Linked DNA regions of Homo sapiens. The protein of the gene in region 1 purifies or fractionates together with the protein of each later gene. This does not show direct contact. Each region holds a gene or a part of one and is shown in the gene's direction. Other genes may lie near its edges. The genes, in order: CAMKK1, NSA2 and NTHL1.

The links.
Region 2: the proteins of CAMKK1 (region 1) and NSA2 purify together in Homo sapiens (affinity purification with mass spectrometry; one large-scale study listed by BioGRID and IntAct). This does not show direct contact.
Region 3: the proteins of CAMKK1 (region 1) and NTHL1 purify together in Homo sapiens (affinity purification with mass spectrometry; one large-scale study listed by BioGRID and IntAct). This does not show direct contact.

What each region holds. Positions count from the first base shown.
Region 1 is NC_000017.11:3,872,403-3,876,053, reverse strand, and holds part of CAMKK1 (calcium/calmodulin-dependent protein kinase kinase 1), read left to right. Parts: intron 1-2,591; coding exon 2,592-2,645; intron 2,646-3,426; coding exon 3,427-3,500; intron 3,501-3,651. UniProt on the Homo sapiens protein: Calcium/calmodulin-dependent protein kinase that belongs to a proposed calcium-triggered signaling cascade involved in a number of cellular processes. Phosphorylates CAMK1, CAMK1D, CAMK1G and CAMK4. Involved in regulating cell apoptosis.
Region 2 is NC_000005.10:74,773,696-74,777,346, forward strand, and holds part of NSA2 (ribosome biogenesis protein NSA2 homolog), read left to right. Parts: intron 1-172; coding exon 173-365; intron 366-2,908; coding exon 2,909-2,976; 3' UTR 2,977-3,651. UniProt on the Homo sapiens protein: Involved in the biogenesis of the 60S ribosomal subunit. May play a part in the quality control of pre-60S particles.
Region 3 is NC_000016.10:2,041,927-2,044,834, reverse strand, and holds part of NTHL1 (endonuclease III-like protein 1), read left to right. Parts: intron 1-34; coding exon 35-205; intron 206-1,108; coding exon 1,109-1,268; intron 1,269-2,908. UniProt on the Homo sapiens protein: Bifunctional DNA N-glycosylase with associated apurinic/apyrimidinic (AP) lyase function that catalyzes the first step in base excision repair (BER), the primary repair pathway for the repair of oxidative DNA damage.

The sequences.
Region 1 (3,651 bases):
TTCCAGCAAAGTGGTCCCAAATCTCCCTTGCAGATATTTACTGTTGGTTGCTCTGTGCTGGGTTCTGGACTGGACTGTGGAAGAGGCAGAAACAAAGAGAACCCTGTTTCCTGCCCTCTGGATGGTTTCGGGGGAAGTTGGGGGTCCCCGCAGATCTTGGGACATGGCAGGATTTGAACTGGCCCTTGAAGAATGGGGAGGATCTGAGCAGGACCTGGAGCCTAGAGAATAAACCAGAGAACAGAAGGGCTCAGGGTGGGGGGCAGAGGGTATAAAGGGCCTGGAAGTTTGGGCTTTCTCCTAAGTGACAGGAGCGTAGGCAAAGTTGTCTGAACAAGAGGTTACACGGTCTGGCGCAGTTCCCTGGGCACATGGCTGTTTCACCTATGGAGTGCCAGCCACCCCACTGCCAGGGAGGCTGTGGGTGAGAGGCATTTGGACACGTGTGAGTATCCAGGAAAGAGGTCAGGAGGCCGGGCACAGTGGCTCATGCCTGTAATCCCAGTGCTTTGGGAGGCCAAGGTGGATCTCTTAAGGCTAGGAATTTGAGATGAGCCTGGGCAACATAGCAAGACCCCATTTCTACAAAAAAAAAAATAAAAACATTAGACAGGTGTGGTAGTGCACACCTGTAGTCCCAGCTACTTGGGAGGCCGAGGTGGGAGGATCGCTTGAGTCCAGGAGTTGGGGGCTGTAGTGAGCTGTGATGGTGTCTAGCCTGAGTGACTGAGCGACACCTTGTCTCGAAGAAAGAAAGAAAGACGTTGGGGATGTTGATAAAGATTTTTTGAAATGTTTTATTTTGATATAATTCTAAATTTACAGAAAAGTTGGAAGAATAGTACAAAGAAATCCCCTATATCTTTTTACCCAGATTCACCAATTATTGACATTTTGTCCCACTGGCTTTTTCATCATCTTTCTTTTTTTTTGAGCCGGAGTCTCGCTCTGTCGCCCAGGCTGGAGTGCAGTGGCGCGATCTCAGCTCACTGCAAGCTCCACCTCCTGGGTTCACGCCATTCTCCTGCCTCAACCTCCCGAGTAGCTGGGACTACAGGCGCCCACCACCACGCCCGGCTAATTTTTTGTATTTTTTAGTAGAGACGGGGTTTCACCGTGTTAGCCAGGATGGTCTGGATCTCCTGACCTCGTGATCCGCCCGCCTCGGCCTCCCAAAGTGCTGGGATTACAGGTGTGAGCCACCACGCCCAGCCAGAAATTAATCATTGATAAGACTTATATATCGGTCAGGCATGGTGGCTCATGCCTGTAATTCCAGCCCTTTGGGAGGCCAAGGTAGGTGGATCACCTGAGGTCAGGAGTTTGAGACCAGCCTGGCCAACGTGGTGAAACCCCGTCTCTACTAAAAAATACAAAAATTAGCCGGGCATGGTGGCGGGCACCTGTAATTCCAGCTACTTGGGAGGCCGAGGCAGGTGGATCACCTGAGGTCAGGAGTTTGAGACCAGCCTGGCCAACGTGGTGAAACCCCGTCTCTACTAAAAAATACAAAAATTAGCCGGGCATGGTGGCAGGCACCTGTAATTCCAGCTACTTGGGAGGCTGAGGCAGAAGAATCGTTCGAACCCAGGAGGCAGAGGTTGCAGTGAGCTAAGATCGTGCTATTGCACTCTAGCCTGGGCGACAGAGTGAGACTCTGTCTGAAAAAAAAAAGACATACATAATCCACAGACCTTATTTAAATGTTATCAGTTGTCCTGATACTGTACTTCATAACTTCTTCTTTTTCTGGTCCCGGAATCCAATCGAGGACCACTTGCTGCATTCACCTTCTTGTCTGTGGTATCCTTTCATCTGGAAGAGGGCCTTGGCCTGCCGTTGTCTTTCCTGATCTTGACATTTTGGAAGACAACCAGCCTGTTATTTTGTAGAATGTTGTCAGTTTGCATTTGTCTGGTGTTCCCTGGTTGGATTCAGATGATGCATCTGGGGCAGGAATATGTAGGTAGAGATCGAGAATCACTCATATAAGCGAGAAAGTGGATACCAGAAGAGGTGGCGTTCCGGAGCAGAAGGTAGAGAGAGCACACGCTGGAGTCCAGGGCGCGGGGAGGCCCAGGGGTGTTTGGGAGCCCAGAGGAGTTGTTGCAGTGGCGGTGGATGAGGGCGTGAGAGGACAGGGCCTCTGTGTGGGCAGGGGCTGTTTGCAATATCAGGAAGAAGGTGGATTATGAGGAGAAGGGATGACTCCTTGAAGCCCGAGCTGGTTTAGTGAGCAGAAGTTCCATATATACCATCATTCCTGGGGTGCGTCTGTGGCACGGGAGCGGCCCGTGTGACCCTCTGGATGAAGGAGGTTTTGTACCTGTTGAGTTGGAAACGTACCTGGTTAGAGTCTTTCCCAAGGAAATCCAGAACCCCTGGAGGGTGGAGGCCTTGTTCTGGCCGCCCCTGTGTCCTCAGCACTCAGCACGGGGCCCAGCATCGGGCAAGTACCGCGGAGTGTTTGTCGAGTGAGTGCATGACAGAGGAAAGAGGTTCCCTGCAGGCCTCTCCTGCAGCCCGCTGGAGCTGGGTGGGCAGAGGTGGCTGTGCCTGTTGGGGACTGATGTGAGCATGTTTCTTTCCAGGCCTTGGATGTATGGGCCACTGGCGTCACGTTGTACTGCTTTGTCTATGGGAAGGTGAGTGCCAGGGATGCCAGCAGAGCTGGGGCGGGTCCAGTGAGGCGGGCACGGGCGACGGATGCAGGCTCTTCCTTTTTGTCCTTAAGTGGCTTTTGAAAGAGCCCACCTGGCTCAGAGAAGGCTGAGAGAGAAGAGGCTTTTTCTATCTTTCTCTGGTCCCCTGCGGAGCGATTCTCGCGAAGGAGTCGCAGGACAGCAGACACCTAAGGGGAGGTGCCGACGATGGTGTTGCCACCGCCCCAGCCAGAGTGCTCCCCGTCCCTCTGTCCCTTGACGCCATTCACTTATTGAGCCATGTGTTCACTCCCTTGCTCATTTATTCGACAAATTGTCCTTCACCCCTACCCTGGCTGAGGCTGGACCCTGGGGACACCCAACGCTGACGTATCGGTGATCCCTGCCCGCAGGTGTGCCTGCTCTGGTGACCACACTAAGGGGCAGGGGGGAATTTCAGTGAACATGTTCCCAAGCCCCAGGCCCTGGGAGTGGAGGCCTGGCCACAGGTGGCGGTAATGGTGGTGGGTGCACCCAGCCTGGCCTGGCCTGGCCGCGGGTGGCAGTAACGGCGGTGGATGCACCCAGCCTCATTGTTCCCTCAGCAACTCATTCATTCAGTCAACATTTGTTGAACATTTACAGTGTGAGTTGAGGTCCTTCTCATGTAATGGGAGCCCAGACCTGCCCCCTACCCCTGCCCCCACCAAGGGAGGGGGGTTGATCCCCTGGCACAGGTCGAGGCCCTGGACCCACATCCTTTGTCTGCCTCTCCACCCCACAGTGCCCATTCATCGACGATTTCATCCTGGCCCTCCACAGGAAGATCAAGAATGAGCCCGTGGTGTTTCCTGAGGAGTGAGTTGTCCACCCAGGGGAACAAGGGGGCTACCACCCGCTCCTGGTGTCTGAGTTTTAGCAGAGCTTTTGCCCTCTGAGGACCCCACCCCAGCCTGCAGATATGAAGGTGGCGGTGCTGTTCCCTGGGAGGGACCCCTGAATAGATGGA
Region 2 (3,651 bases), on another chromosome or scaffold:
TGTAACCATCAGCTTTTTACTCTGTAAAACATATTTTGTTAGCTTCTTTAAGATGACATTATTCAACCATAGTTTTTTGGAGATGGTTGAAAAAGATAAGCGAAAACGACCACTACTCATCACTGTTAACATTTTGGACGTAAACATTCTTATGTTGTGTTTGACTTACTAGGGCTTGCGTTTCAAGAAAGCCCATGTAACACATCCTGAACTGAAAGCCACCTTTTGCCTACCAATACTTGGTGTAAAGAAGAATCCCTCATCCCCACTGTATACAACTTTGGGTGTTATTACCAAAGGTACTGTCATTGAAGTAAATGTGAGCGAATTGGGCCTTGTGACACAAGGAGGCAAAGTTATTTGGGGTAAGTGAATTTTTGAATACAGGGCTGCTGTGTTCTGCAGTACTAATAGAAATACTATTCAAGTTGATGTATTAATAAAATATACAGCAAATTTTTTTAATGCAGTAGAGCTAAAACACTGTAAATCAGATGTAAATATTTAGTAAAAAATACTTTATAGAAAAAGTTGTTATAAATACAATTGTTTTAAAATTTAGCTTACTGGTTTTAGTTACATAAGGTGTAATACATTCTGCTAGATTTATTTTTATCCTTTTTAGCCAGGCACAGCAGCTCACGCATGTAAATCCCAGCACTTTGGGAGGCTGAGGCGGGTGGATCACCTGAAGTCAGGAGTTTGAGACCAGCCTGGCCAACATGGCAAAACCCCACCTCTACTAAAAATACAAAAAAATCAGCCGGGTGTGGTGGCGAGCACCTCTAATCCCAGCCACTTGGGAGGCTGAGGCAGGAGAATCACTTGAACTCAGGAGGCGGAGCTTGCAGTGAGCTGAGATTGTGCCACTGCACTCCAGACTGGGAGACAGAGCAAATCTCCATCTCAAAAAAAATTTTTTTAACCTTTTTAATAAAAATTATTATAAGGGAAGCAGATGCAAAGTTATAACTAAGAAATATTATAAGAAAATAGAATAAATTAACCATGAGCAGAGGAAGGGAGGCATATATCAAACATATTTTAAAAGTGAGGTCAGCTTACATGAAGTATTAGCCAATGACTAAAGATGTCTTCCGTAAGAAAAAATTTCTTTTGCCACAACTTTATATTATGTAAATACTTCTTATATTTACATGCTAACATTAAGAGAAAATACCTATTACATTTAAAGAAATAGAACTATCTGTCCCACGTAGGTAAACTGATCATTGAAACTGCCAGGAGCGGTGGCTCAGCCTGTAATCCCAGCACTTTGGGAGGCTGAGGCGGACAGATCATCTGCAGTCAGGAGTTCAAGACCAGCCTGGCCAACATGGTGAAACCCCATCTCTACTAAAAATACACAAATTAGCCAGGTGTTGTGGCCCACACCTGTAATCCCAGCTGCTCCGGTGGCTGAGGCAGGAGAATCGCTTGAACCTGGGAGGTGGAGCTTGCAGTGAGCTGAGATCGTGCCATTGCACTCCAGCCTGGATGACAGAGCGAGACTCTGTCTCAAAAAGTAATAATAATAATTGAAAGTGATTTAACACAGTTTAGTTCGTTCTGTTAATTCCCATTAACAGGTCTCAGAAATCATGTAGAAGCTTCCAGGCTTTAAAAAGCCCCCTCGCTATCTGGGCGCAGTGGCTGACACCTATAATCCCAGCACTTGGGGAGGCCGAGGCAGGCGGTTCACTTGAGACTGGAGTTGGAGACCAGCCTGGCCAACATGACAAAACGCCGTCTCTACTAAAAATACAAAACAATTAGCCAGGTGTGGTTGTGGGTGCCTGTAATTCCAGCTACTCGGGAGGCTGAGGCAGGAGAATCACATGAACCTGGAGCTTGCAGTGAGCTGAGATCATGCCACTGCACTCCGGCCTGGGAGACAGAGCAAGCCTCCATCTCAAAAATAAGTAAAATAAAAATATTTTGATCTTTTTTAATAAAAATTCTTTATTACAAGGGAAGCAGATGCAAAGTTATAACTAAAAAAAATTGTAAAAAAAAAATAGAATAAATTAACCATGAGCCGAGGGAGGCATACAACATATAATCACACTAGATCAGTAATAATTAAAACAGAAATGTGTCATGCAGTAATTTTAAACGCCCTCATTTGCTTAGTTTTCTACCTTTAGTACCCAGATCCAATTTCTTTGAAAGGGAAGAATACACGCTACAACTTCTTCAGTCATTGGTTTATACTTCATGTCAGCTGACCTCAGTTTTAAAATATGTTGTTACCTTGACTTGAAACTCATTTGAAACTTGATACATTTTCCAGGAAGAATTATGTGAAAAAGTGACAATGCTCAGGTCAATCCACAAAAGCCTGTTAATGCAATGTACTAATAACATGGAGCTGGCCATTATTTGCAAAAACACTATTTGTATGAAAATTGTATTCAGAACTCAAATTTGTCCTTAAATGATTGAATTTTGTAAAATCTCATTTATCCTTTATGGTTCATTTCTTATTTATTGAAAGTGGTAATTAGAAATATTTTAGGCATGGCTGGGCGCAGTGGCTCACACCTATAATCACAGCACTTTGGGAGGCCAAGGCAGGCGGATCATTTGAGCTCAGGAGTTCGAGCCCAGCCTGGGCAACATGGCAAAACCACATCTCTACAAAATACAAAAACAAAAAAATTAGCCAGGCAGTGGCGTGTGCCTGTGGTCCCAGCTACCCGGAAGACTGAGTGAGGAGAATCGCTTGAGCCCAGGAGGCAGAGGTTGCAGTGAGCCAGATCACGCCACCACACTGCAGCCTGGGGAATAAGAGTGAAACCCTGTATTAAGACAAAAAGAAAAAAAAGGCAAAAGTTATATTCTTTAAAATTAATTTTTATTAGCTAACAACCCTCCCTTTTCCCTTTTTTGGTTTTGTTTTCCTTAGGAAAATATGCCCAGGTTACCAACAATCCTGAAAATGATGGATGTATAAATGCAGTCTTACTGGTTTGACAGCAATTTCATATATAATTATTGAGGACTACACACCAATTGAAGAAACTGCCATTACTGTGATGTTTCTGAATACTACCAAACAGCCATACATGTCTGCAATGAAGAGATTTATTAAATTGTAAACATTAAAGTGGTCCAGTTTTATAAATGGTCTTTATTTTGAAATACGCTTTGACCCCATGTTCATAAAACTGAATGATTGAAAAAAAGCAAATATACAAATATCCTACTTCATCAATATCTGCATTTGTGAGTGGGTATTCAGCAATTTCCTGAAAAAACCACCAGTGTTCATTGAAAATGCCTTTCAAAAAGGTTAATACACAATTATGTGTCTGAGAATTTAACTGAAGTATCTTCAAAATCTCGTTAATCATTAATCCTAAAAAAGGTAGGTAGCATTAATACAGATGTTAAGTTTATAGTGTTTGTTTACACTAGAAGTATGTGAGAAGACACTAAAAGTTCAGAAATCTTAGAGAAATCTTTTCACCTGTGAAATCCAGTACAGCAAAGGTCTAGTGAATTCACATTCTAAACATTTTTTTCATCTCATTTACCATGTATAATAATACCTACTTGGCACTATTTTCTACTTGAATCATGAAAATGAAAAAAATATACTAAAGTCTTTGTACTCTCTTAGCATTTTCTGTATTCTAAACAATATAT
Region 3 (2,908 bases), on another chromosome or scaffold:
GCCGCCACCCCGGTCCCTGTCACTGCACAAGCAGGTACGCAGGTACCAGGTGCTGCTGTCACTGATGCTCTCCAGCCAAACCAAAGACCAGGTGACGGCGGGCGCCATGCAGCGACTGCGGGCGCGGGGCCTGACGGTGGACAGCATCCTGCAGACAGATGATGCCACGCTGGGCAAGCTCATCTACCCCGTCGGTTTCTGGAGGGTGAGCCCTGCCTGTGGCAACGGGGGCCGGGTGGCAGTGGCCTGAGAGAGACCTCAGAAGGCTGAGGGGGGTGGCGACGGTGCAGGAAGTGAGGGTCAAGCATCTCAGGCTCGGGGGGTCCCCCTGAAGCCCCCCCCAGGCCGTGGGGCCCTGAGGCCTGACGCCCAGTCCCAGCAGCTCCTTGGCCTTCCTGTTCGCATCCTCCCTTCCTTCCTCTGCTTCCCCGCCTCGCCGCCTGCCCACCCTTCCTCACCGCCAAGGCTGCCTGCCCACCCGCCTTTCCCTTTGTTTACTGCTAGCCTCTCCCGGTGTGTCACCCCCTCCTGTCCAGAGCCCCTCACCCTCCAGGAGCCCTGGGGAGGCTGCTCCCCAACCCCGCCGAGCACTGGATGGTGGTGGGCGGATCTGTTGAAAGCAGCTTGGTGGGTGGGGCCGCTTCCCCTTGGCACCCGCGTGGGCCGCAGTTTCTCAGATGGGTTTTAAATAGCCCTCTCCACTCAGGCACAGGATGGGAACCACCCGGCAGGCCTGGCAGCTGGTGGGGAAGCCCCAGCTCCAGCCCTCCTTCCTGAAGGCGCAGGTGCAGCCAAGCCCCACTCCTGGGAGCGGCTGGCCTGCTTGGCCTGGCCTGGGTGCTGGCAGGGAATGACGGGCAGGGGAACCCCAGCCAGAGCCTACACGTGCATCATTGGCCCACACGGGTGGGAGGAGGGGGTCAGGCCTACCTTGGGCCTCCCTGCTGCCCTCCGCTTGTTCCCGCCTCCTGGGGGGCGGGGGCTGAGCTTGCACACGTCCTCAGCAGGTGCAGGTAGCTCTGGCCACCTGTGGGTCTCCTGGGGGCTGCATCCTCCCAGGTTGGGCTGTGCCCTTGCCTCCAAGGCTGAACCCACCCCTGTCTTTCAGAGCAAGGTGAAATACATCAAGCAGACCAGCGCCATCCTGCAGCAGCACTACGGTGGGGACATCCCAGCCTCTGTGGCCGAGCTGGTGGCGCTGCCGGGTGTTGGGCCCAAGATGGCACACCTGGCTATGGCTGTGGCCTGGGGCACTGTGTCAGGCATTGGTGAGTAGAGGAGGGCGGGGCTGGCTCCAGCCCACTGGCTGCTCTTGGGATTCCCCACATCCTTGTGACCTGTGACTCCACTTCCAGCATGCTGGTCCTCCACCCAGCCCATAGAGTCAGAAAGGTGCTCCCAGGGTGGAGCCAGGCCAGCCCCACTCAGAGACAGGTGCTGGGGCAGGAGGTCACATGGGCTGAGCACCTGCTCCGTGCAGGGCTCTGAGAGAGGCCCCGGAGCTGGACTCCATCTGCGTTGTATTCGGGAGAAATGTGGAGCGAGGAATTCCCCACTCGTGGAGTGGAAACCCTGATGGTTGTGCAGGGTGCTCTTGGGGCCTGGCTTGGGCCCAGGGCCTCTGGGAAGGCCCCCAAGGTCATCCTTCACCTGAGAGCTGCAGAGCAAGGTGGGGTGAGCCAGGCCAAGAGGAGGAAGTGTGTTCCCAGCAGAAGGAACAGCATCTGTAAAACCATGATGCGAGAGAGAGGGCCAGGAGCAGGAAGTTCTGGAATGAGATGAGGGCAGAGTGGGGAGGTAAGGACTGAGGAGGGAGGAGGAAGAGTATCCCCTCAGCAGGTGGGGTGGGGAGGGAGGTGCTGGGGGGAGAAAGGGGGAGGGTGGGGAGGGAGGCTCTGCGGGGACAGGAGGGGAATGGTAGGGAGGGAGGCGCTGGGGGAATGGGGGAGGAGGGTGGGGAGGGAGGCGCTGGGAGGATGGGGGGAGGGTGGAGAGGGAGGTGCTGCGGGGAGAAGAGGGGAGGGTTGAGAGGGAGAAGAGGGGAGGGTGGGGAGGGAGGCACTGGGGGGAGGGCCCTCCTTGAATCCTTTTCCCAGGTCCTGGTGTCTCTTCCTAGCACCGGAGGCTTCTTGGCAGTTGGGTGCAGACAGACCCCTGGGTTTGGGGTGGGGCTGCCTCCTCCTCGGCTTTGTCCAGAGGATTTGGGGCTCCTAAGGCCACACGCAGCCGGGCCCAGCCAGTCCAGAAACCAGGGCTTGGCCCTGCCCTCTGTGTGCCCCCATCCCAGGCCCCTTTGGGACTCCTGCAGGGGGCCTGTGCCGGAGGCGGGGGGCTTGCAGCACTTTCTGGTGGGCAAGAGGGCCACCAAGGGCCGGGGGCCTCTATTCTGAGCCGGGGCCACCTGGTGAGGCTGAACAGCCACAGCAGCCCCAAAGAGCCAGAGCCAGGCCAGGTGCGCCGGGGCAGGGCCTCCTCCCGACTGAGACTCCCAGCGTCACCACCTGCCAGCCTCTCAGTGGACACTTGAGCTTATCTGGGCGGCTGTCCTCAGCTGCCCGTGTCCCTGGGGTGCTGCATCGTGGTTGGGCAGGGCTGTGGGGGAAGGTCCCTGCCCGCAGCCAGGCAGGGAACGGGCTTTGGGAGCAGCGGGCACAAGAGACAGCCATGTGGAAATACCTCCCTCTCCAGGTGTCTGTGGGCCTGACCACCTGCAAGGAGACCCCAGGGCTGCCTCCTAGGGGTTCCCCGAAAGAGAAACGCTCTCAGTTAAAATGTCAGAGCTGGCTGGGTACAAGGGCTCAAGCCTGTAATCCCAGCACTTTGGAAGGCCGAGGTATGTGGATCACCTGAGGTCAGGAGTTCAAGATCAGCCTGGCCAACGTGGTGAAACCCGCTCTCTACTAAAAAT